Homo sapiens: one gene and its partners. The protein of the gene in region 1 interacts with the protein of each later gene in a biochemical or structural test. Each region holds a gene or a part of one and is shown on either strand. Other genes may lie near its edges.

Region 1 (3,997 bases):
CTGTGGCCCAGGCTGGAGTGCAATGATGCAATCTCGGCTCACTGCAACCTCCTCCACCTCCCGCGTTCAAGTGATTCTCCCTGCCTCAGCCTCCTGAGTAGCTGGGATTACAGGTGCCTGTCACCACGACCAGCTAAGCAGTATTTGTCTGTCTATATCTGCTCATTTCACTTAGGATAATGCCCTCTAGGTTCATCAATGTTACTGCAAATGACAGAATTTCCTTCTTTTTCAAGGCTGAGTAATACTCCATTGTGTATATATATATATACACATTTTCTTTATCTACTCATCCATCAGTGGAAACAGGTTGTTTTCATATCTCGGCTATTGTCAATATAGCTACAATGAACATGGGAATGCAGGTGTCTCTTCAAGATCCTGATTTCATTTCCTTTGGAAATACACTCAGAAATGAGATTGCTAGCACAGAAACAGGAAATAAATGGTATTTTTCATGGCACTTTATGATCTCCCATAATTCACTGAGTATTTCCTATGTGACAGTCACTGTTCTGAGAGATTTACAAGAATTAACTCATTTATTCTTCATAAAAGCATGGGGTAGCTTATCAGCATCCTTATTTTATAAATGAGGAAACTGAAGTATAAAGAGGTAAAGTAACTTGTCCAAGAACATAGAGCAGGGAAGTGGTGCAGCTTGGATTATGAACCCAAGATGTTTTGTTCCTGGGGCTGCTGTCATCTTAATATTTTAAATAGAGAAAAGTAATATGTTCTAAATAAACTTATAGAAAGCCTTCAGGGCCAGCTTATCCCCAAAGTTATTTTTTTTATAAGCCAGATCACCCAACCCTAATTTCTGCATAAAGTGAAATATTGTTTGCTAAATCACTACTACTGGGGGCTACAGCTAGCTTACCTAAGCACCTTCTATATTCTTTCACGTTTAGAAATATGGATATACCCTCCTATGCTCCTCTTTTCATTCTCAAAGCCACCCTGTTCCTGGAATGTGAGATCTCCTAATTGTTGACTGGAGAATCAAATGCTACCTTTGCAACAGCTTATCGGAAGCAAACAAGCTGAGGGGAATTGAGCAAGAATTTCTGGGATACCAACAGCATAGGAGGAACAAAGGACGTAGAGGGAGGGTTGACTGTCTACACAGGACAAAGCCAATGATTAACCAAACCTCTTGCAGATTTAAATAGGATGGGAACTAGGAGTGGCAGCAATCCTTTCTTTCAGCTGGAGTGCTCCTCAGGAGCCAGCCCCACCCTTAGAAAAGATGTTTTCCATGAGGATCGTCTGCCTGGTCCTAAGTGTGGTGGGCACAGCATGGGTATGGCCCTTTTCATTTTTTCTTCTTGCTTTCTCTCTGGTGTTTATTCCACAAAGAGCCTGGAGGTCAGAGTCTACCTGCTCTATGTCCTGACACACTCTTAGCTTTATGACCCCAGGCCTGGGAGGAAATTTCCTGGGTGGGCTTGACACCTCAAGAATACAGGGTAATATGACACCAAGAGGAAGATCTTAGATGGATGAGAGTGTACAAACTCACAAGGGAAACTTTAGCATCTGTCATTCAGTCTTACCACATTTTGTTTTGTTTTGTTTTAAAAAGGGCAAGAATTATTTGCCATCCTTGTACCTATAAAGCCTTGGTGCATTATAATGCTAGTTAATGGAATAAAACATTTTATGGTAAGATTTGTTTTCTTTAGTTATTAATTTCTTGCTACTTGTCCATAATAAGCAGAACTTTTAGTGTTAGTACAGTTTTGCTGAAAGGTTATTGTTGTGTTTGTCAAGACAGAAGAAAAAGCAAACGAATTATCTTTGGAAATATCTTTGCAGTATCAGAAGAGATTAGTTAGTAAGGCAATACGCTTTTCCGCAGTAATGGTATTCTTTTAAATTATGAATCCATCTCTAAAGGTTACATAGAAACTTGAAGGAGAGAGGAACATTCAGTTAAGATAGTCTAGGTTTTTCTACTGAAGCAGCAATTACAGGAGAAAGAGCTCTACAGTAGTTTTCAACTTTCTGTCTGCAGTCATTAGTAAAAATGAAAAGGTAAAATTTAACTGATTTTATAGATTCAAATAATTTTCCTTTTAGGATGGATTCTTTAAAACTCCTAATATTTATCAAATGCTTATTTAAGTGTCACACACAGTTAAGAAATTTGTACACCTTGTCTCCTTTAATTCTCATAACAACTCCATAAAATGGGTCCTAGGATTTCCATTTGAAGATAAGAAACCTGAAGCTTGCCGAAGCCCTGTGTCTGCTCTCCTTAATCTCTGTGAGAGTGCCATCTCTTCCTGGGGACTTGTAGGCATGCCACTGTCTCCTCTTCTGGCTAACATTGCTGTTGCTCTCTTTTGTGTATGTGAATGAATCTTTAAAGACTGCAGATAGTGGTGAAGGTGACTTTCTAGCTGAAGGAGGAGGCGTGCGTGGCCCAAGGGTTGTGGAAAGACATCAATCTGCCTGCAAAGATTCAGACTGGCCCTTCTGCTCTGATGAAGACTGGGTAAGCAGTCAGCGGGGGAAGCAGGAGATTCCTTCCCTCTGATGCTAGAGGGGCTCACAGGCTGACCTGATTGGTCCCAGAAACTTTTTTAAATAGAAAATAATTGAATAGTTACCTACATAGCAAATAAAGAAAAGGAACCTACTCCCAAGAGCACTGTTTATTTACCTCCCCAACTCTGGATCATTAGTGGGTGAACAGACAGGATTTCAGTTGCATGCTCAGGCAAAACCAGGCTCCTGAGTATTGTGGCCTCAATTTCCTGGCACCTAATTTATGGCTAAGTGGACCCTCATTCCAGAGTTTCTCTGCGACCTCTAACTAGTCCTCTTACCTACTTTTAAGCCAACTTATCTGGAAGAGATAGGGTAGGAAGAAATGGGGGCTGCATGGAAACATGCAAAATTATTCTGAATCTGAGAGATAGATCCTTACTGTAATTTTCTCCCTTCACTTTCAGAACTACAAATGCCCTTCTGGCTGCAGGATGAAAGGGTTGATTGATGAAGTCAATCAAGATTTTACAAACAGAATAAATAAGCTCAAAAATTCACTATTTGAATATCAGAAGAACAATAAGGATTCTCATTCGTTGACCACTAATATAATGGAAATTTTGAGAGGCGATTTTTCCTCAGCCAATAGTAAGTATTACATATTTACTGCTTTGACTTTATAACAGAAACAACAAAAATCCTAAATAAATATGATATCCGCTTATATCTATGACAATTTCATCCCAAAGTACTTAGTGTAGAAACACATACCTTCATAATATCCCTGAAAATTTTAAGAGGGAGCTTTTGTTTTCGTTATTTTTTCAAAGTAAAAGATGTTAACTGAGATTGTTTAAGGTCACAAAATAAGTCAGAATTTTGGATTAAAAACAAGAATTTAAATGTGTTCTTTTCAACAGTATATACTGAAAGTAGGATGGGTCAGACTCTTTGAGTTGATATTTTTGTTTCTGCTTTGTAAAGGTGAAAACTGAGAGGTCAAGGAACTTGTTCAAAGACACAGAGCTGGGAATTCAACTCCCAGACTCCACTGAGCTGATTAGGTAGATTTTTAAATTTAAAATATAGGGTCAAGCTACGTCATTCTCACAGTCTACTCATTAGGGTTAGGAAACATTGCATTCACTCTGGGCATGGACAGCGAGTCTAGGGAGTCCTCAGTTTCTCAAGTTTTGCTTTGCCTTTTTACACCTTCACAAACACTTGACATTTAAAATCAGTGATGCAACACTAGCTGGCAAGTGAGTGATCCTGTTGACCCAAAACAGCTTAGGAACCATTTCAAATCTATAGATTAAAAAGAAAAGCTCATCAGTAAGAAAATCCAATATGTTCAAGTCCCTTGATTAAGGATGTTATAAAATAATTGAAATGCAATCAAACCAACTATTTTAACTCCAAATTACACCTTTAAAATTCCAAAGAAAGTTCTTCTTCTATATTTCTTTGGGATTACTAATTGCTATTAGGACATCTT
Region 2 (3,500 bases), on another chromosome or scaffold:
CCAGTGAGTTCAGGGTAGTGATTGTAATGCCTGTGTTGCCACTTTACATGATTTGAAAGAAACTCTAGTTCCTAACAAGCTCTGATCTGGCCACAGGCTGAGCTCTGACCCTAGTCATAGACCAAGCCCTGATCCTAATCATGGACTGAGCCCTGACTACAGTCATAAACTTGGCCCTGATCCTGATCCTGGACTGAGCCCTGATCCTGATCATGGGTTGAACCCTGACACTGGTCACAGACCAAGCCCTGATCCTGATCGTGGACTGAGCCCTGACCCTAGTCATAAACTTAGCCCTGATCCTGATCATGGACTGAGCCCTGCCCCTAGTCATAGACTGAGCCCTGATTCTGATCATGGACTGAGTCCTGACCCTAGTCATAGACTGTGCCCTGATTTTGATCATGAACTCACCCCTGGCCATCAGAGGCATATCTCACTACTCTTTGGAACAAACTTCACTCACTTCCTCTGACTGTCAGGACTAGCACACCAAGAGTGTAGCCTTTACATGTGACGACTGTCATGGCCTGCCACTAAGGCAAAAGGATTCATCTCTAGGGGCCATGCAGGAGTGGTGTGGGGGACAGAGCACTAGCCCCAAGGTATGTCACCAGCCTGGGCTCTGGGCTCAGGAGGTTACTACTCCACCTCTTCAGTACACCTCAGACTCCAGAGGGTGCCAGAAAAGAGCTTCCCTCTTCAGTCCAGAGTCTCCAGCCAGGGCCCTGGGACCAGACCTTCGGGTTGAGTGTGAGATCCTGGAGTTCAAGGGGATGCAAGAAATGACACCACTCCTTTGGGGGCACCTTTCCAGGAGAGGGAGAAGCAGCTCATTGCTGTCCTCCATTTCTCTCCCTGACCCCAACCCTCCGCCCCCTCCCTCATTTCCCCAGGAAGCACACAAACCACCTGATCTCTTTGACCCCTTCAAGGTTGACCTGGCTGGGCCCCCACTGCCACCAGCACTTTGCCCCCATGCAGGCTCCTCAGAAAACAAAACAGCCTTTTATTCCCAGGACCTGGGGGAGGTGGGGACAGAGCACAGCCTGAGCCCCATCTGCTCTGTTCCAGGAATGGGGTAAGGGGCCTAGCAGTCACAAGTCAGCAACCCCAGGATTCTCTCTCTGCAGGGACCTCAGTCATCTCTGTGACAGCAGTGGATGCAGACGACCCCACTGTGGGAGACCACGCCTCTGTCATGTACCAAATCCTGAAGGGGAAAGAGTATTTTGCCATCGATAATTCTGGTCTGTGTGACTAACACTCCTGGACAGTCACTGATTTGGAGGGACAAGGGGAGGTGGATACTCCAGGTGCATGTGCTAAGGGAAGTCCAGTCTGACAGGTGTCACTAGCTACTGAACCACACTGTACCATGGAAGTAGTCAGTATCATATGTAAAGACAAGGCGGCTGGTCAAGGGAGAAGGAAGCAGGCAGGTGCCCAAGAGGTGGACTCAAGTCCAGGGAACAAAATCAGGATCTTGTTACCCAAGAAGTGGCCAAGGGGCAGCAGAGGATGGTGGCTAGCCGCTCTGGGTGCAGGTTCAGACAGATCTGGTTTCCAAAGCCAGCTCTGCCACTCACCCCCTCTAGAGACCTTGGACAAATCAACTAACTTCTGCAAGCCTTAGTTCCCTCATCTAGGAGGTAGGAATGCTTATATTTATATCGTATGGTAGCTGTAAAGTTTGAGTTAGATCATGTATAAAGGCAGCAAGGCCCATAGTAATTGCTTATGTGATGACTTAACAAAAAATATAAGGACTGACTCTTGGGAGCAAGAAAGAAGTCCAGTGGAACTGTCTTTCAGAGAGATGGCAAATACATAGCACAGATGCCACTACTATGCTACAGTGCACCAAGGCAGACATCACTAATCTATCACAGCACTCTTTCCATCTGAGCCTAGATATGGCCTCATGGTCTTTGTCAACACAATATTTCAGGTGGCGAGGACCAATACCGAACCCAACTATTGGGCCAGCTTTGGCCTCACAGTATAGGCTATGGAGGTAGTGGGTTGTAGACTCACAGTTCTCAGCCCCATTTGCACAGTGGAATCACCAGGGAAGCTCTTAAGTCAGGTTCTCTCTGGGCAGGCCCTAGGCATCGGTATTTTCTAGAAGCTGGTAACATGGTTCCTGCTGGGAATCTTTTTGCAGGACGTATTATCACAATAACGAAAAGCTTGGACCGAGAGAAGCAGGCCAGGTATGAGATCGTGGTGGAAGCGCGAGATGCCCAGGGCCTCCGGGGGGACTCGGGCACGGCCACCGTGCTGGTCACTCTGCAAGACATCAATGACAACTTCCCCTTCTTCACCCAGAGTGAGCCCCTCCTCTAGGGCCCTGGGAAGGGGGGCTGGGATACCCCAGACTCAGTGACTTGGGGCTCTGGGAAAAGAGTTACAAATCACTTTACCTCTCCCTCTATCCCAGGGTAGGCCTGATGCCCAAAGGAGTCCTTTGGGTGAAGGGAGGGGCCCTGCTTCCATCCCAATACCACATTCCCAAGGCCATCCTGCCGCCCCCTGCCACAATCCCCTCATAGGCCAGAGGGAAATCCCACTCCCTGCTGGGTGCCACCACTGTACTGTGTCCCACCATGAGACACAAGCAGTTTCACCCAGATCCCATGGGCTTGGGAAAATCAAAGCCCTGAGACTCAGGTCCCAGCTAGAAATTCCCACAAGCCAGTGAACATGGGGACAGCAAAGTTCTATATCCAGAGCCAGGGCTGGGCCCTGACCCCACCTACACACTGATCCACCCCACAGAGAATGTCTAATGAGAGCTTTTCCCATGCCTGGGGCAGATGGCTCTCCACTTGCAACTCCCAGTGCTGATACTGTCATTCAGTTGTTCAGCCACCCTAGAGACAGGCCAATTGTCCTGAAGTGGCTTCCTCGTACATGGCATAAGCTCCCTGAAGGCAGGACTTGTCTCTCTTGTCCATTGATAGGTCCCCTAGCAAAGTGCCTGGCATACAATAGGTGCTCAATAGCTATTTATTGGATGGAGGGATGGATGGATGGACATACAGATAGGGAAGACCCTCTTTACCTTGAGAATCCCAGGGGTATTATTATTTATGATTATTTTATTATGCCCATTTCTTTTATCAAAATATGTTAGAATAGCTGAAAGAGGCAATCGCCTTGTCTATCTCATTAACCCAAAGCCCTTTGGGGTGCTCTGTTTGCATCAGCCAAGTACACATTTGTCGTGCCTGAAGACACCCGTGTGGGCACCTCTGTGGGCTCTCTGTTTGTTGAGGACCCAGATGAGCCCCAGAACCGGATGACCAAGTACAGCATCTTGCGGGGCGACTACCAGGACGCTTTCACCATTGAGACAAACCCCGCCCACAACGAGGGCATCATCAAGCCCATGAAGGTTTGTAGGCCAATGGCAACAATGTCAAACGTGAGGCTTGGGGCTCTTGGCACCCACAGGTCCTGCTTGGGGATTGCTCCTGGGCCAGAGACCATCAAAG
Region 3 (3,980 bases), on another chromosome or scaffold:
AACACAGCTAGAAGGTAATACAAACACTTCTGATATAGTTCATACAGTTTGAGAAGCTACCTATTACACAATAAGTACACGTAGAACCTAAATGTGAATTCTCATTTTTTGTCAAGCAGTTAGCTCTTGCACTACAAAACGCATCTGTATAATTCACATGCCTGTTCTGTTATTCAAGGACGATTGACATAAGCCTGTGCAGAAAGTTACATCTCATTAACCTCTTTCTTGAGTTTATATTCCCATATCTTCTGTTTCAGCATATTAGTGAGGGAAGCTTGTCATAATGCAGTAACACTTTCTTTCTTAACTTTCAACAAGATTTCTCTCTTTAAAATTCCTTTTTCCAAATGGGGCCCATCCTTTTCACTTTTGGTAACTGTGAGAATTTTAGCTCTTTGCTAACAGTTTTGAAAGTGTGTTAAATATATAATAGTGGCAAAGTGCTGGTCTACAATTATTTTTACTTGTGCTATCTGATATAGTACTTCATGTGGACGTGGTGATACAACACGACACTATTTCATTTTTTAGAAAAAAACTAGCAATCGTTTACCATGTGCTCTGCTTCTATCTTAGATGTTCCTCTCCCTCATGAAACTAAATTGGCACCAAATATAATCCTCTTAGTTATTTAATATTCTATCTCAGAAGAAAGTTGTGGGGTCTGTATTTTTTATGTTCTATACAAAATTCTCTTCAGATATTTACTCCAATCATGGTAGCAGTAGTTCTATCCTCATAAATGTATACAAAAGCATTGAGAACTCAGCTTTAGATGAAGTCAAATTTCTGGAGATTGGAGACTCAATCAGGAAGAGCCCAATAGCAGTAGTCTGCCAGTACCATTATATTTTGCTAGCATACTGGGCTGAAAATCTCCATTCTGTTCATCTGCTCTGGTCCAACTTCAAACATTTTTCCTAAGAAAGGTTGAGAGCTGATTGTTCCAGATCAAAGACATCATCATTTCAAGGCGAGCTATGTGCTTCCATTTCATCAGTATAGTTTCCAACCATTCCACACCAACTTCAAGGCAAGTTGAGCAAGTTCAGAAGCTATGGTTAGGTGGCAATGATATGCTTAAAAGATTATCACCAATAAGTGTCAGATTTCCTAAAGGAACTCAGATTAGTCCCACCACTGGTAGAGGAAATAACACGTGTAGGTATGTTACAAAGGCTAGAATCTGGCTGCCAACAGCAGGTTGAATAGAAACACTGCAGTTCATTCCCCTGTTCTTTCCTATAATGAAGCAATATTTTTTGTCAATTCATAATCTGCTTCATGTAAATACAATAACTAAATCTCCCAATGCAACATTCTGCCTATTTGCTTGGCATTGGGATCTGGGTTTCTTTCTCTCTTTCTCTCTCTCTCTCTCTCTCTCTCTCTCTCTCTCTCTCTCTCTCTCTTATTTAAACTAAAAAGCTGAACTATACCAGTCAATATAAGCTCATTTTCTGATTTTAAAAAAATCTATGATACTTCTGATTTTACTTTAACCAGTTAACCATTCCAAGGCCAGGGCCAGTGCCCCAAATATTCATCTAGTATTTTCCTCCCTTTTTCACCAGTGCATCTGTTGTCAAAGATTATTAAACTCGCACAGGGATTCTTGATTTTCCAGATGAAAAGTTTATAGAATCCCGGCTTTTTCTAATTCCTACCTCCTTTCTCCTCTGCTCCCCATATCCATTCCCTTCTAAACTTCTACCATTCACCAGCTGCTTGGAGAAAAAGGAAAAGCAAAGCGCCAGACTGGAGAGAGGCACTCCAGGGGTGGGTTAGCCCCTCAGAGCACCTGGGCTGTGTCACAGACCCTCATAATCGAAAAGTCAATTTCAAGCAGGTGCGTGCGCCCGGAATCGTCCTAAAAGCCTCTCTGCTGATGACAGGACTCTGACCCCAGTCTGCCCCCAGGAAGGGGCTATAGAAACGAAAGGGGCCTGAATCGGCGCTTTCGCCGCTCCACGGACCTCGAATGCAGCAGGTAAGGAAGTTAACCTGGGAGCTAAGTTGAGGGCGGACACGCTTAACGCGGAGAACCTGGAGCTCGCAAAAGCTCGCAGTTGAGGGCCATCGCGGAGGGAAGTCTTTCGGAAATGCGAATTCTCATTCCAACATCTGCAGCGCTTAGAATTCGCGGACAGAAGCGCACAGCCAAGTGCACACACTCCCGGAGGGGACAAAATGGGGACCGGGAAACGGCCAAAGGGAAAAGCTGTGGGGGTGCCGAGGACTCAGGCACTTGGTTCAGAAATCCCGCACCGCACCTCTCACCCCCGCACAGGGCCAGCGCACGGTGGTCACCCGGTCCCGGGGAGCGGAGCTGCAAGGACTTAAGTTTCACACTCACTTATCTGCAAGCATCGCCCAGCAGGAAAGCCAAGGAAGTCAGGGGAGGGGAGCGGGGAGGTGTTCTCCTTACCTCGGTCGGCTCCCACGGTCAGCACCCTGGCAATCGGCAATAATCCCGAGAGAGTGAGTAAGGCGAGGAGAAACTCGGACATTGTGGTCGCCCGGTAAGGAAGCCTGCGCTGGAGACTGCTCGGCGGCACCTTCGGCCCGGCGGCGGCGGCGGCGGCAGGGGCCGCTTGGAGCCTGGAATCGAGCGGCGTCATTTACAAATGTCACTGGAAATTCTTCAGCTCAATGAGTCCAGCCAGTCAGCCTTCTCCTGCCTGGAGCAGGATGTGGAAGGTGGAGGGATGCGCGCGTGCGGGAGAGAGGAGGCAGAGCGTGTGTGAGCGCGAGCGAGACGCCCGTGTGTCTTGACTTTTCAATGCAGGGTACGTCTGATCTTACATCACGCAAGAGGGGCAGTGAGAGATGCCAGCGGATGGGAATTCACTGATTAATCACCGAATCCACCACACACCCCTTCGTCGTTCACATAAATCACATCTATTACTTAATAAGAGGCATTTAACACAACAGGAAAATACCACCGCGAACGGAGAGCGCCACAAATCACAATTATTTTAATCCCCTTGAAGGGAAAGTAACTCGAAGCTGGTTCTGTGGGGATTTGGGTCTTTGGAGAAGGGAGAGACTTCTGCATTGGCCTGAGCCAGCCAGGCGCCTACAATGCTCCGCAGTTCACAGCCAGCTGAGAACCCTCAGCCGAGCACAGGGCTGCTTCTGCAGGCAAAACAAAGCTTCTCCCTTCGTTCCTCGGAAGCTTCCTTCCCGGGAAGGAAGGACAAGCCAAGGAACAGAGCTTCTCTTAGGGAAATGGTTTCCTCGGCTCTACACAGAATCCCAGTACTTCCTGAATTGCACTTTTAACTTTTATGCTGAGCAGCACCTGGGGACAAAGAGGCAAAATTTAGTGACTCAGCAGAAACAGAAAGCAAAACAACCCCCAAAGTCATTAACCGTTGCGTAAGAAGGGAAGGTTAATGGAAAAGGCTATTGAGGTCCCCAGGCAGGGAACAATAAAGCAACGAATTGGCAGCGTTTTTCTCTGGGGTTCTGTCTTTAAAAGGGTACTTCGAGCCATTTTAAACAGGCTTTGAGGGTTTTGTTGTTTTTGTTTTGTGTTTTGTTTTGTTTTCCTTTTCCATATACTACAGGGGCGGTGTAAGAACTTTCCCGAGCCATCGGAGGCATCAACGGGAATCACTGGAATAATAATATTAGTAAAGTTGTTTTTATGACCACTTAAGTTTACAACATGATCATCCCAGTCCCTAAAATTTTAGTTTGCCATTACAAAGTGGCTACGGAATTAAAACTCAGAAATCTTAATAGTTGTAGACTTACTTTCTTCCTTGTAACATCAGGAATTCTCTTCTAAGAACAAGAGTTGAAAAGGTTTTATATTTAATATTTTGAAACTGGACATGAGTGGAGAGGAAAACTATGAGAAGGGAACAGAACTAAGGAAGAGAACGATTGAAAAGTGAAGGAAGATGCTTTAAAAGCTTTATTTACTTTGCTGTTTGAGACTTATAAGTGAATGCCAGCATTACTAT
Region 4 (3,500 bases), on another chromosome or scaffold:
GCCTCCACTGCCTGGAACTCAGGCCGTGCAGCAGGTGCTGGGGAGAGGCGGGAGATCAGCAGTTCAGCTCTGGACCTGTTGAGCTTGAAGGGCTTGGGTGCTTTAGGCGGAAATATCCAAAGAACAGTTGGGAGTGGCTCTCCCCGCTTCCACAAGAGAGATCTGAATGGGAGACAGGGGTTTGGGGAAAGTGGATGAGGTCCCGGGACCTGTGAAATAAGAGGCCCAGGATAGAGCCCTAGGGAGCAAAAGCATTTAGGTGACTCCTACAGGAGGTAAGTCTGAGAAGGAGACAGAGGAGTGTCCAGAGAGGGAGGAGGGAACCCAGGGGGTCTGATGGCCCGGGACTCAAGGAAGAGCATGCGTTAAAGAGCATGCACAGGAGGAAGTGGGCGCTGCAGCTCCTGCTGCTGCTGCAAGATACAATTAGGTGGGGCTGGAGAAATATTCATGGGCTTTAGCAAGAAGAGGGTGCCAGGCATGGTGGCTCATACCTGTAATCCCAGCTACTTGGGAAATTGAAGCAGGAGAATCTCTTGAACCCGGGAAGTGGAGGTTGCACTGAGCTGAGCTTGCGCCACTACTGCACTCCAGCCTGGGTGACAGAGCAAGACTCCATCTCAACAAAATAAAAAAAAAAATAGAGAAAGAAAGGAAGAAAGAAAAAAGAAGGGGAGGTTATTGGTGACAGTGACATAAATTGATTCAGGCCAAGATAGGGTCAGAAGCCAGAATGCAATGGGGTAAGGTATGAATGGAGATGAAAAATTGGATGCAGCTAATGTAGACAGCTCTTTCAACAGGTTTGTGGTAAAAAGGAATTTGAGGAATAGAAAGGAAAAAAAAAAACATGTTTGACTATAAGAGGAAAAAGAGAAAAGGTGATCACAGAAAAGAGATGAGGGTCAAGGGAAGATTATTTCAATGTGGAAGAACATGTAGTAGGTTGAAAATGATGTTGTGGGGAAATGGGGGGATGAGCCAGCAGAGAGTCCCTGTGATGCCTCAGGGGGTGGGAGGGTGACTGGCCCAGTGTCAGGGTGAAGGAAGGAAACCTCTTCCAGGGTCAAATGGGGAAAGGGAAAAGAAAGTTGGTGTGGGATTATAGCATAACAGTGGGCTGCCTCTCTTCCTGAAGTAAGAGATTACGTCACCTGCTGAAGGAAGTGTGGGGGGTCTGGGAGTTTGATGGAATGGAGAAGGCTAGAAATAGATGCTAGATGGCCAGGCACGGTGGCTCACACCTGGAATCCCAGCACTTTGGGAGGCCGAGGCAGGAGGATCACTGGAGCCTAGGAGTTTGACACCAGCCTGGCCAACATAGGGAGATCTCGTCTCCATAAAAATTTTTAAAAATTAGCTGGGCATGGTGGCTATAGTCTCAACTGCTTGGGAAGCTGAGGTGGGAGGATTGCTTTAGTCCAGAAGGTTGAGGCTGCAGTAAGCCATGGTTGCACCACTGCACTTCAGCCTGAATGACAGTGCAAGACTGTCTTAAAAATAAAAAAATTTTAAAAGGGGCTTGGGCACGGTGGCTCACACCTGTAATCCCAGCACTTTGGGAGCCCAAGGTGGGCAGATCACTTGAGGTCAGGAGTTCGAGATCAGCCTGGCCAATGTGGTGAAACCCCGTCTCTACTGAAAATACAAAAATTAGCCGGGCATGGTGGTAGGCGCCTGTAATCCCAGCTACTGAAGAGGCTGAGGCACAAGAATCACTTTAACGGGGGAGGCAGAGGTTGCAGTGAGCCGAGATCGCACCACTGCACTCCAGCCAGGACAACAGAGCGAGACTCCATCTCAAAAAAAAAAAAATTTAGAAAAGGGAATAATGATGCTTAATTTTCAGGATATATTTTCCTCAATAGACAGTGAGAGTTGTCACTGTTTTTATAACAATCCTACTTGGCAGGTCCCTCTCCCACCTGATTGTTAACTCCTGGAGGGTAGGGCAGTGCCTCCTTCACCCACACTTTGCACCCCTTTCCTAGTCTCCTGGGATGTTCCCAGAGAAGCTCAGGAAAGTTTTACAGTCATCTAGGGAGGCTGAATAACAATCAGCCACTTCCTTTCTGTTACTCCTTCCAGACATTGCAGTGGCTGCCCCCTACGGGGGTCCCAGTGGCCGGGGCCAAGTGCTGGTGTTCCTGGGTCAGAGTGAGGGGCTGAGGTCACGTCCCTCCCAGGTCCTGGACAGCCCCTTCCCCACAGGCTCTGCCTTTGGCTTCTCCCTTCGAGGTGCCGTAGACATCGATGACAACGGATACCCAGGTGCCCTGGACTGCCTCCAGCTAGAAATGCCCAAGAAAGGCCCTTGGACATTCGCTGGAAGTGCCAAGAGACACGGCCAGGGGCTCATGCCTGGCCTGGTGTCCCACTATGGACTGCCAGAGGGGCTGGGTGAAACCTCCAGTGGGGGAGGTGGTGTGGGGAACCCCTGGGAAGATGAGATGAGGATCCCATGCCCTAATCGCCAATTCTGACCCATTCCTCGATGTCTATAGACCTGATCGTGGGAGCTTACGGGGCCAACCAGGTGGCTGTGTACAGGTGAGCACTGGCTCCAGGGGCGGGATGGGGAAGGTCCTGTGCCATCAAGAGGAGGCCAGGCCAGGAGGAGCCACAATGGCAAGCCTACCCCATCACCCTATCCCATCAGAGCTCAGCCAGTGGTGAAGGCCTCTGTCCAGCTACTGGTGCAAGATTCACTGAATCCTGCTGTGAAGAGCTGTGTCCTACCTCAGACCAAGACACCCGTGAGCTGGTGAGGAGGCAGAGGGCATGGGCCTTAAAGGATCTGGGACCTCAGAAAGGCTCCAACCCCTGAGCCCCACTTACGTCTTTGCAGCTTCAACATCCAGATGTGTGTTGGAGCCACTGGGCACAACATTCCTCAGAAGCTATGTGAGTGGCATGAAGGGGGCAGGAGGGAGGTGGGCTTGGACTCCCCCGGAGGCTGGCCAGGGAGGTCCTGACTCTTCTGCTTGCCCTGCCAGCCCTAAATGCCGAGCTGCAGCTGGACCGGCAGAAGCCCCGCCAGGGCCGGCGGGTGCTGCTGCTGGGCTCTCAACAGGCAGGCACCACCCTGAACCTGGATCTGGGCGGAAAGCACAGCCCCATCTGCCACACCACCATGGCCTTCCTTCGAGTACGCCCAGGCAGGGGATTGGCAGGGCTGGGAGAGTAGAACTTACCCACTGGACTTGTTCATCTAGCCCTGGGGCACTGAGCTGGGTGCTGTGAGTCCGGGGGTGGTCAGGACACGGTGCCTACTGGCCAGGAGAAGGTGGGATGTGTATGGTAGCAAGATGGCCTGACTCTTGCCCCTGTCCTAGGATGAGGCAGACTTCCGGGACAAGCTGAGCCCCATTGTGCTCAGCCTCAATGTGTCCCTACCGCCCACGGAGGCTGGAATGGCCCCTGCTGTCGTGCTGCATGGAGACACCCATGTGCAGGAGCAGGTAGGGACAGGCAGGGACAGGCCAGGGAGGTGCAGGACC
Region 5 (3,500 bases), on another chromosome or scaffold:
AACTCTGGGAAGAAGTTGGAGTGCAGGAGAGGTGATTTTTCACACTCTACTTTATCATATATTTATTATTTGAACCTTTTCAGTGAACTGGTATTCACCTTATCACTTAGGTGATACATTTTTAAAAGGCAGAAACCATTTTAAAAAATGACACATACTGGTGATTTTGAATTCTCATACTGCCTTAAAAAATATTGAATGGTAGTTATCTACTGCTTTTTTTTCCTTTTTCTTTGTCTGTTCTTGAAACTATTTTGATCCCATCTGTTCTAGAGAGGAGGGGAAGGAACTGGTTACTTCGTGGACTTCTCTGTGCGGAACTGCCCCAGACACCATTTCCCCAGACACCCCAATGTGAGTATAAGAAATGTCTGTGATCGTTGACTAGAGTCACAGAGAAAAAAGAAAGAGAAGAAGGAGAAGGAGAAGGAGAAGGAGAGGAAGGAGAAGAAGGAGAAGAGGAATGAGAAGGAGAAAATGAGGAGGAGGAGAAGGAGGAAGAAATGTCTGTGAAATACAAAGTATCATCTGGGAAGCACTTAGTACCTGCCAGGCACTCTTCTAAGTGATTTACACATCAGATAACTTATTGTTTTGTTTTGTTTTTGAGATGGAGTTTCGCTCTTGTTGCCCAGGTTGGAGTGCAATGGCACAGTGTCGGCTCACTGCAACCTCCGCCTCCCGGGTTCAGGCGATTCTCCTGCCTCAGCCTCCGGAGTAACTGGGATTACAGGCATGCACCACCACGCCCAGCTAATTTTTGTATTTTTAGTAGAGATGGGGTTTCACCATGTTGATCAGGTTGGTCTCAAACTCCTTATCTCAGGTGTCCACCCACTTCGGCTGGGATTACAAATCAAAGTGCTGGGGTTACAGGCGCAAGCCACCATGCCCAGCCTATGATAACTTATTAACCCTCACACTACCATATGAGATAGATACCATTTTTAATCCCAAATTAGCAGATAGGGGAACTGAGGCACAGAGAACATAAGCGAACCATAAGAACATGATTTTATAATATACATGATATATACCTAAACTTAAAACTAAGTTTCTAACTGATTAGGATTAAAGGCTTAGTTAGAACTATAGCAGTTCGTACTAAGACCCTACGCCAAGTGGTTTTATTAATTCCACATCATCACACTCACAGGAATCCCACTTGACAAATGAGGAGGTAACTGAAAATCAGCAAAGGAAAGGTCTTGCCGATGTTCACAACCAAGCTGAGATTAAAACTTAGTTATTCTCATACAAAGTCCAGTGGGATTTTTCCTCTAATCATTTACAAATAGATTCCCATGTACCTGCCAGAAGACATTATTAATACCACCTGGCATTTGCATGGTGACCTACAGTTAAAGAAACACCTCCACATCTGTTATTGCCAGGAGAGCCTCATGAAAATCCTGCTGACAAGGAAAAGCAAGTATCTGCCTACATTTCCTGTGACAAGGGGACCTGAAATTAAAACCACTTACCTAAAGGCACTTAGCTAGAGAGTGTTAGGAAATGGAATTTTAATTATGATGCCAAGTCCAGGATTTTTCTGAGGTTTAACAACACATTCTCCCTGGTCAAAAGGGAGAAACCATCCATTAGTACCTTTGTTAGCTCTTCTAATGTCCACACTGAACCAGGTCTAGAAACCTTCTTAGCGCCCACCAGAAAAGACACCTCCCTCCCCTACTCCTATGGCCAACAAACCCTTCATGATCTTGGTGTGGATAATGTAAACCCAGAGTTGAAGCACCAGAGCTGAAGAGGAGGCTCAGGGGTAAGTGTTTTACAGCATCCTCTTGTTTAATTAATCCCTCCCACAACCTGTGAGTACATAGTATTATCCCCATTTTACAATGGCTGACTTTCAGAAATCTTTTGTAACTTTCCCAAACTCAGACAACTAGGAAATGGAGAAGCCAGGATTAACATAGGTCTCTCTGATTCCCAAACTGTACTCAGAACCTCAATGCTTAGCAATTTCTTCTAGCAGACAGCCGTCCTCTTGTCCTAGTCGATCTTTCACAGGTGGGTTTAGGAGCATCTGGAGCACAGGAGTGGCAGCCAGTTGTAGCCCTGGCACTTGGGTGGAGTCAGCAGACACTTGCCTTGACAATGTCCATGAAAACCCATCTTTATGCTATACAGATGCCCTCCTGTCCAACACTTTCCTCCAAGGGACCAGCTGAAGTTGTAAAAATCCCTCTTTGACACCATTCCTCATTGTCCTAGGCACAGGCAACTGAGGTCTCCAGTGCAGAAGGGTTGGCCTAAAGGCAAGGCAGCAATGATGTGGTTTTCCTCATCATTTCCATCACCCATGGGGAAGCCCAGTGCTGGTGCCTGCTCATGAAAAAAACCACAGCAACTTTAGTGATACCCTTCACCACCTGCACTTTCCCCAAAGTGTTAACAAGGAAAGATTGCTGAACGACTGGTGGGAATATCTGATCATATTACCCTGATTTTTCTAAAGCACTTCTTCCTTTTCTGAATGTCTGGAAGCTAACTCTGGCTGGTCATCTTCACACCACCTGGACACACACACTAACAGCTCCTCATTCCTTTGTAGGTCTTTGGATTCTGCAGAGCAGATTTGTTCTATGATGTAGAAGCCTTGGACTTGGAAAGCCCGAAAAACCTTGTCATAAACTGTGAAGTCTTCGACCCTCAGGTGGGTTGTCTAAGCAGACTTTGTCATGGCAGTGCCAGATTAAGTGACATACGTACACAAATAGTGTTGTTGCTTCCTAAAGCTCTATGAGTGGGTGTGTGTGTGTGTGTGTGTGTGTGAGAGAGAGAGAGAGAGAGAGAGACAGAGACAGAGACAGAGAGAGGGAGACAGGGAGAGAGAGAAAGAGAGAGACAGACAGACATGCAAGAAAAAAGATACAGAGAGTATCCCACAACTGGGGAAAGGAGTGCAATTGCCAGATTACACAAAAAGTATGAAAACTTTTCCAAGAATTGAAGAGGGGTAACAATTGGCAGAAAATTAAAATCATGTCCAATTCAACCAAACTTGAAGGAATTTGAAAATGCTCTTTGTAGTCGGGACTCTAGTGCTGAGACTTAGTCATTCCTAAGCTTATATTATTGGGCATAGAATCTAAGAGGAATATATCAGCCTCAAATTTATTATGTAAATGTATATAAAATAAGATGCAAAACCATATTTTGCATCTGTCTCAGAAATCTTTGGTCTATTTTTTACATGAGTACAAAGATTTGCTTCACGAAATTTTTCATATCAGAAACAAAACTTAAAATAATCCAAACATCCAATCCCAAGTTAAAAAAAAGAAAAAGGAACAAAGGGCAGGATTGTCACCATGAACATGGCTCTGTCTTTTTTTTTTTTTTTTTTTTTGAGAAGGAGTTTTGCTCTTATTGCCCAGGCTGGAATACAATGGTGCCATCTCGGCTCACCACAACCTCTGCCTCCTGGGTTCAAGCGATTCTCCTGCCTCAGCCTCCTGAGTAGCTAGGATTACAGG
Region 6 (3,500 bases), on another chromosome or scaffold:
AGACCAATGGGTGAATAGCATGGGAGAGATGGAACATAAGATGAAGGTTCAATAAAGAGGGAAGGTCAGTGGGGAGATGCTAATCAGGAAGGATGTCAAAGGTCAAAGGGGACTGATCAGGATTCATTGAACAGCAGGAAGGAATAATGGAGAAGGAACTGATGGAAGAAGAGAAACCAATAAAGCACAAAAGCCAACTGAAGGATGTGAATTGAGACAGTGAATGGGGGTATAGCTGATGGAAGAGGGACTAAGGGGAAAGGATCAATGGTCCAGAGGAGTCACTAGAGGAAAAAACAGGTCCAATAGATCAGCAGGATCCATGAAGGTGGGCCTGTGTGTGAAGGGCCAATAAGAAAGGTGAACCATTGGATGAAGGGCCAGTGGGAAGGCAGAGACAATGGGGGAGGATGCGGCAAGTTAGAAAAGGACCAATGAGGGAGGTGGACCATTGGATGAAGGGCTAATAGGAAGGGAGAGCCAGTGGGGGATGGTGAGGCCAGTTAGAAAAGGACCAAGGAGGGAAGCAGACCAATAGGAAGAGAGAGCCAATGAGGGAGGGCAGGGCCAGTTAGGAAAGGACCAATGAGGAAGGTAGACCATTGGAGGAAGGGCCAATAGAAAGGGAGGATCCATGAGGGAGGGTGGGGACAGTTAGAAAAGGACCAATGATGGAGGTGGACCATTGGATGAAGAACCAATAGAAAGGAAGAACCAATGGGAGAGGGCATGGCCAGTTAGGAAAAGACCAATGGTCACAGAGTGACCAATCAAGATGAATCAATGGGCAGGAAGTGTCCAATGAAGAATGGACTACTGATCAGGAGGGGTACAGTAGAGGAGGGCGTAACAGAGGAAGAGTCCTCCAGGTCAACTGAAACTACTGAAGAAGGTGGGACCAGTGGAAGAGAGAAAAGTGGAGGAGGGACCTAAGAGAAAAGGAAAACCAATAGGAAATGAGGACTCCTGGAGAAGAGACTATTAATGAGGAAGACAGCCAATGGGGGGGAAGAATGATAGAAAGAGGGACCAATTAGGAGGCAGGGACGATGGTAATGAGATGTAAGAATGAGAGACAAACAGGAAGAGGGGTGCCAATAGAAAAGAGGGACCAATAGAGGATGGAGGACTTATAGGGGTTGGGGGGTGACTGGGGAGGATGAGGGGAGTGCAAGGCCTGGGCTGAGTCTGGCCCATCTCTCCCCTAACAGGTGATTTCCCTGACACCATCCAGTGTGCATACATCCACCTGGTGTCCCGTGAGGAGTGTGAGCATGCCTACCCTGGCCAGATCACCCAGAACATGTTGTGTGCTGGGGATGAGAAGTACGGGAAGGATTCCTGCCAGGTGAGGTGACCCGGATCTGCCACTTACACAGCCAGGGACAGGACGAAGTCACAAAAACATGGCCAGACACAGGAAGAGAGAGACACAGGCCAAAAGAGAGCTTTACAGAGACAGATAGAGACAGGCTGAGGGAGAACCCAAGCCTTGAAAAGAAGAGACTTAGTTCAACACACAGAGACACAGTCAGGGATATGCAGAGATATAAAGACACAGCCAGCAGAGACAGGAAGTGCAGAGACAAGGATGGAGGCCGCGGGATCAAGAACCAGAGAGGCCAGGAGCAGCGGCTCATGCCTGTAATCCCGGCACTTTGGGAGGCCGAAGCAGGAGGATCACCTAGGGTCAGGAGTTCGAGACCAGCCTGATCAACATGGTGAAACCCTATCTCTACTAAAAATACAAAAATTAGGATGGGCACAGTGGCTCATGCCTGTAATCCCAGCACCTTGGGAGGCCGAAGCAGGAGGATCACCTGGGGTCAGGAGTTCGAGACCAGCCTGATCAACATGGTGAAACCCTATCTCTACTAAAAATACAAAAATTAGGATGGGCACAGTGGCTCATGCCTGTAATCCCAGCACCTTGGGAGGCCGAAGCAGGAGGATCACCTGGGGTCAGGAGTTCGAGACCAGCCTGATCAACATGGTGAAACCCTATCTCTACTAAAAATACAAAAATTAGGATGGGCACAGTGGCTCATGCCTGTAATCCCAGCACCTTGGGAGGCCGAGGTGGGTGAATAACCAGGTCAAGAGATTGAGACCAGCCTGGCCGATATGGGGAAACCTCATCTCTACTAAAAATACAAAAATTAGCTGGGCGTGGTGGCAGGCGCCTGTAGTCCCAGCTACTCAGGAGGCTGTGGCAGGAGAATCACTTGAACCTGGAGGCGGAGGTTGTTGCAGTGAGTCGAGATCATGCTACTGCACTCCAGCCTGGCAACAGAGCAAGATTCCGTCTCAAAAAAAAACCAAAAAACAAAAATTACGCAAGCATGGTGGGACACACCTGTAGTCCCAGCTACTCGGGAGGCTGAGGCTGGAGAATTGCTTAAACCCAGGAGGCAGAGGCTGCAGTGAGCTGAGATCACGCCACTGCACTCCAGCCTGGGGACAGAGCCAGACTCTGTCTAAAAACAAAAAGAACCAAAGAGAAGTAGTAAGGAAGCAGATGGTGTGAGGGGACTGTCCTTCCTCAAACAGAGCCCCCACGAGTCCTGCTCAGAAACGACCAGGCTCTGGAGGAGGGAGACACTAGCTGGGGAAAGGGGACTCCCTCCCGAATACTTTAACTTGGGTTTCCTCCATTGTCATCCATCCAGGCTCTCCTCTTTATGCCAGAATGACTAATGCACTGAGGGATGTGCAGAGACCAACCAAGGGGGAGACACAGGCAGAAACGGAGACACAGGCAGAAACAGGGACAGAGACAGGGAAAGCGATACATAGCAAGTTGGACGCAAAGAAAGGGCAGGTGGGCGAGACTGTCCTCAAGACACGAGGTGGAGAGGTGTCCCTGGACAGAATAGTGCCAGGCATATCTCTCCCTGGGCCCTCCCTACCTCTCCCACCTGGGTCTTATCGTCTCCTCCTCCCCCTCCTCCCCCTCCCCATCCTCCTCCCCCTCTCCATCCTCCTCCCCCTCCCCATCCTCCTCCCCCTCCTCCTCCCCCTCCTCCTCCCCCCTCCTCTCCCTCCTCCTCCTCGTCTTCCCCCTCCTCCTCCTCCTTCTCCTCTTCCTTCTCCTCTTCCTCCTCCTCGTTCTCCTCTTCCTCCTCCTCCTCTTCCTCCTCCCCCTTTTCCTCCTCCTCCTTTTCCTCCTCTTCTCCTCCTCTTCCTTCTCCTCCTCCTCTTCCTCCTCCTCCTCTTCCTCCTCCTCCTCTTCCTCCTCCTCTTCTTCCTCCTTCTTCTCCTCTTCCTCCTCCTCTTCCTCCTCCTCCTTCTCCTCTTCCTCCTCCTCTTCCTCCTCCTCCTCCTTCTCCTCTTCCTCCTCCTCTTCCTCCTCCTCCTCTTCCTCCTCCTCTTCCTCCTCTCCTTCTCCTCTTCCTCCTCCTTCTCCTCTTCCTCCTCCTCTCTCTCCATCGGTCTCTACACCTCTGCCTCTCTCCACACCTCTCAGTCTCCATTCTTAAATTGTTTCTCTTTCTTGCTCT
Region 7 (3,500 bases), on another chromosome or scaffold:
ATTTCTCTTCTGGAGTTTATATCCTAGAAGCTCTCCAATCGAAGCCCTCTGCAGGTATCCTCAGGTCCTGGAGAAACACAGCAGGAAGGCTTGTTGGCTTCGGAAAGGGAGGGCTATGGTTTAAAGCCAGTAAGATGTGGGTTTGATTCTTGACTTTGTCTCCTGTAGGCTGTGTGGCCTTAAATAAGTTACCTAATCTCTTGAGTCCTCAGTTTCCTCATTTGTAAGGCAGAGGAAACAATGCCTATGATTATGCTGATTAAATGAAACAGAGGCACAAAATAAGTGTTTAATGAATGACAACTACTATTGTCATTATTCTTCCTATCCATGCTATCTGCCATGTATTGGAGGCAAAAGCTGTTACTACTTCATGCATATGCGCTATGCAGGCTTCCAGAATGAAACTGATGGGGTCCCTTTCCCCCACATATGTGAGAGGGGGTCCCTCTTATTTCAACTCGTTCCTCATTGCTGGTTTGGCATATCTCAGCTACTCTAACCCGGCAAGAATCCACAGAAGAAGCCAAGAAGGAAAAAGGCTTATACATTTGCTTTACCCATAAGAAAACCTCAAGCCCTGTATCTGAAAAAAGAGGAAGATAAAAGGATCTATAAGACTTCAAGTTCCATGAGAAGAGGGACATGTCTATTTTGTTCAATACTCTATGCCCACTGCCTGGCACATAGGCAGCAAAACAAATATCTGTGGAATGCTATGTAAAGGCATCTATAGATGATGTGCCTCCCTTTAAGAAACCCAATATTTGAATATTTGCACTCATTCATACAAGATCCTCAAGTGCTCCGTTTGGATAATCTGGAGGGTATGAAAACATAGCCAAGATCATGAATTCTTTGGGCATTTGGGCCGCTGCACTGTTGCACCATTTAGACCTGTGATCTGAGAGTGTGAAAAACTCAAGGGATCCTCTGTAAAGTGTCTGCCTTTTTTTCCCTCCTGGGAGGAGCCGTTAGAAGGGCAACATTCTCCTTTCTCCCCCTTGGACGTGTGGGTGTTGGGGCAAGGGTGAGGAGTGACAGAGGTCTCCTGGGAAGACCATAAGATGGGGCAAGCACACCACAGTGAGGAGGGGGAGTCTGGCTATGACTTTAGAATTTCCTGATCGAAATTTCTCCTCTAAAGCTCCCCACCCTACTTGGGATCTGAGGTTATCATCCCCTCCCAGTCCCAAGAACCCTTCTTCCCTTGTTGGCAGAAATCTCCAGGAAGCATGCCCACAGGAACCACAACTCATGAATCAGAAGACAGATAATTAACCGAGGGAGTGACTGAGCAGCTTCAGGGATGAACCGCTTCGTTTTACCCAGCCCTCTCTGCTGCCCACAGAGTGGGCTGCTCCACCCCATCGCCTCTGCTCCCTCTTCCTGAACCTTGGCCCTTCCTGAGTGGGACCTTCATTGTGCCTGATGGAGCTCAGGCCACTAGTGGAAATGAAGGTGGGAGCAGGGAAATGACTCTGTTTAGGGGAACTGCCTATTCCCCGTGTGGGAACTGCTGGCATTTATTGAAACGTGAGACTCTCCAGCAAAAAAGTGATAGCATCTGCCTTTCTGTCCACACACACAGTCTCACCAAAAACACTCTTTTTTTTTTTTTGTTAGATAATTCAGGTATAATTTATGTACAGTAAAATTCACCCTTTTTAGTGCATACAGTTCTATGAATTTTGACAAATGCATATAGTCAAGTAACCATTGCCATCATCAAGATACAGAATTTTTCCATCATCCCCTAAAATTCCCCCAAGCTCTTTTTTTCCCTTCTTTTTCTTTCTAGAGGCAGGGTCTCACCATATTGCCCAGGCTGGTCTCGAACTTCTGAGCTCAGGCAATCTGCCCACCTCGGCCTCCCAAAGTGTTGGGATTACAGGCGTGAGCTACTGTGCCAGGTGCCCCCCCAGCTCTTTTGTAATCGATACCCTACCCTCAACCCTCGTCGGTTGCAACTGCTGATCTATTTCCTGTCCCTGCAGTTCTATGTTTTACAAAATGTCATATAAATGAAAGCATGCAGTGTATAGACTTTCAGTCTGGCTTCTTTCACTTAGCACAATACATTTGGGGTTAATCTATGATGCTGCATCTATCAGTAACTCTAAGACATTGTCTGAGGCCACTCCGTCATCCTCCGTGTTGGAACAGTTACCCTGAAAGCAGTGGGACTGGATCCGTTAAACTTTGGAGGTGCTCCCCAGCTTTCAGCTTCTAAATTTTATAATTGGATAGATGTATTTAGCTATATATAAGTCATTAGATTTTCCATGTGCTAAGTAGTTAAAGACTTCAGGATACTAGAGAGGATTCTGTAGCAACCAACACTTATTATTCTTGCTCATAGGAGTAACAGATATTTTGTGGCCAAATATTGTATGTCATGATGCTTGGAGTCAGAAGTTGTTAAGTAAACCTGGGGGCTATTCTACCTTTTTACATTTTTGGTAGCATCTCTGAAAAAACAACCCACTTGACTTTTTTTTTTTCCTTTTTTTTGGGAGGGTGGGTGGGTGGGTGGCTTTTTGGCCAAAACCAGAAAGCTTGCTAGACAAATTCTAACACTAGATCTAACACTAGATGTCTTATTTCTGTTTTTCTGTCATGTTCCCATGAAAAGACTATTTACTTACCCCCCTCTCTCGGTTTTATAGTTGAGTTAGTTCAATTTCTTAGTTCAGTTAGTGAAGATGTTTAAATATTCAAGGAGAGAAAGAAAAAGAACAAGGTGATACACATTTTAAAAAAGTCAAAATAACAAATATTGTTATTTCTTGGCTGGGCGCGGTGGCTCATGCCTGTAATCCCAGCACTTTGGGAGGCCGAGGCGGGCGGATCACCTGAGGTCAGGAGTTCAAGACCAGCCTGACCAACATGGAGAAACCCTGTCTCTACTAAAAATACAAAATCAGCTGGGCATGGTGGCATGCGTCTGTAATCCCAGCTACTCGGGAGGCTGAGGCAGGAGAATCGCTTGAACCCAGGAGGCAGAGGTTGCAGTGAGCCGAGATTGTGCCATTGCACTCCAGCCTGAGCAACAAGAGCAAAACTCTGTCTCAAAAAACAGAACAAAACAAAACAAATATTGTTATTTCTCAAATAGGTTCATCCACATAGGATCATTGTCAGTCGTTAAAATTGCTGGTTCCCTTCTAATTCTATTCCCCTATAATGTTCATATTAATCAGGTGGTGTGTTCTGTTTAGACATTTCCCCTCGCATTTATGTTTATTTGTGTGTGTGTGTGTATTCCTTTACTTAAACCCATGATATATAGTACTTCCTTTTATATAGAAAAAAGCTCAGTGTGGAAAGAACAACGTATCTGGAATTAAGAAACCTACATTCGATTCACAGTTCTGCAGGCTTTTTCATCAGCTTGCTGGGTGACTTTGAACAAGTGACTTTACCTTTAGGCATCAGTCTCTTGGTGTCCCAGGGGCTGCAAAGTGGGACAGAGAAGATGAAGGGAAATACTTCAATTT

Evidence for each region.
Region 2: the proteins of FGA (region 1) and CDH5 form a complex in vitro, tested with the Homo sapiens proteins (one study listed by BioGRID).
Region 3: the proteins of FGA (region 1) and LRP1B form a complex in vitro, tested with the Homo sapiens proteins (one study listed by BioGRID).
Region 4: the proteins of FGA (region 1) and ITGA2B interact in a test that uses a peptide from one of them, tested with the Homo sapiens proteins (one study listed by BioGRID).
Region 5: the proteins of FGA (region 1) and HRG form a complex in vitro, tested with the Homo sapiens proteins (one study listed by BioGRID).
Region 6: of the proteins of FGA (region 1) and KLK6, one has a biochemical effect on the other in vitro, tested with the Homo sapiens proteins (one study listed by IntAct).
Region 7: the proteins of FGA (region 1) and ITGB3 interact in a test that uses a peptide from one of them, tested with the Homo sapiens proteins (one study listed by BioGRID).

The regions. Positions count from the first base shown.
Region 1 is NC_000004.12:154,587,943-154,591,939, reverse strand, and holds the start of FGA (fibrinogen alpha chain isoform alpha precursor), read left to right. Parts: upstream 1-1,197; 5' UTR 1,198-1,252; coding exon 1,253-1,306; intron 1,307-2,377; coding exon 2,378-2,503; intron 2,504-2,963; coding exon 2,964-3,147; intron 3,148-3,997. UniProt on the Homo sapiens protein: Cleaved by the protease thrombin to yield monomers which, together with fibrinogen beta (FGB) and fibrinogen gamma (FGG), polymerize to form an insoluble fibrin matrix. Fibrin has a major function in hemostasis as one of the primary components of blood clots.
Region 2 is NC_000016.10:66,387,191-66,390,690, forward strand, and holds part of CDH5 (cadherin-5 preproprotein), read left to right. Parts: intron 1-1,133; coding exon 1,134-1,250; intron 1,251-2,167; coding exon 2,168-2,332; intron 2,333-3,185; coding exon of another isoform or gene 3,186-3,212; coding exon 3,213-3,400; intron 3,401-3,500. UniProt on the Homo sapiens protein: Cadherins are calcium-dependent cell adhesion proteins. They preferentially interact with themselves in a homophilic manner in connecting cells; cadherins may thus contribute to the sorting of heterogeneous cell types.
Region 3 is NC_000002.12:142,128,217-142,132,196, forward strand, and holds the start of LRP1B (low-density lipoprotein receptor-related protein 1B precursor), read right to left. Parts: upstream 2,801-3,980; 5' UTR 2,625-2,800; coding exon of another isoform or gene 2,514-2,624; coding exon 2,432-2,513; intron 1-2,431. UniProt on the Homo sapiens protein: Potential cell surface proteins that bind and internalize ligands in the process of receptor-mediated endocytosis.
Region 4 is NC_000017.11:44,379,650-44,383,149, reverse strand, and holds part of ITGA2B (integrin alpha-IIb preproprotein), read left to right. Parts: intron 1-2,088; coding exon 2,089-2,271; intron 2,272-2,504; coding exon 2,505-2,550; intron 2,551-2,659; coding exon 2,660-2,764; intron 2,765-2,848; coding exon 2,849-2,904; intron 2,905-2,996; coding exon 2,997-3,148; intron 3,149-3,335; coding exon 3,336-3,461; intron 3,462-3,500. UniProt on the Homo sapiens protein: Integrin alpha-IIb/beta-3 is a receptor for fibronectin, fibrinogen, plasminogen, prothrombin, thrombospondin and vitronectin. It recognizes the sequence R-G-D in a wide array of ligands.
Region 5 is NC_000003.12:186,672,514-186,676,013, forward strand, and holds part of HRG (histidine-rich glycoprotein precursor), read left to right. Parts: intron 1-273; coding exon 274-354; intron 355-2,575; coding exon 2,576-2,677; intron 2,678-3,500. UniProt on the Homo sapiens protein: Plasma glycoprotein that binds a number of ligands such as heme, heparin, heparan sulfate, thrombospondin, plasminogen, and divalent metal ions. Binds heparin and heparin/glycosaminoglycans in a zinc-dependent manner.
Region 6 is NC_000019.10:50,959,592-50,963,091, reverse strand, and holds part of KLK6 (kallikrein-6 isoform A preproprotein), read left to right. Parts: intron 1-1,211; coding exon 1,212-1,348; intron 1,349-3,500. UniProt on the Homo sapiens protein: Serine protease which exhibits a preference for Arg over Lys in the substrate P1 position and for Ser or Pro in the P2 position.
Region 7 is NC_000017.11:47,256,827-47,260,326, forward strand, and holds part of ITGB3 (integrin beta-3 precursor), read left to right. Parts: intron 1-3,500. UniProt on the Homo sapiens protein: Integrin alpha-V/beta-3 (ITGAV:ITGB3) is a receptor for cytotactin, fibronectin, laminin, matrix metalloproteinase-2, osteopontin, osteomodulin, prothrombin, thrombospondin, vitronectin and von Willebrand factor.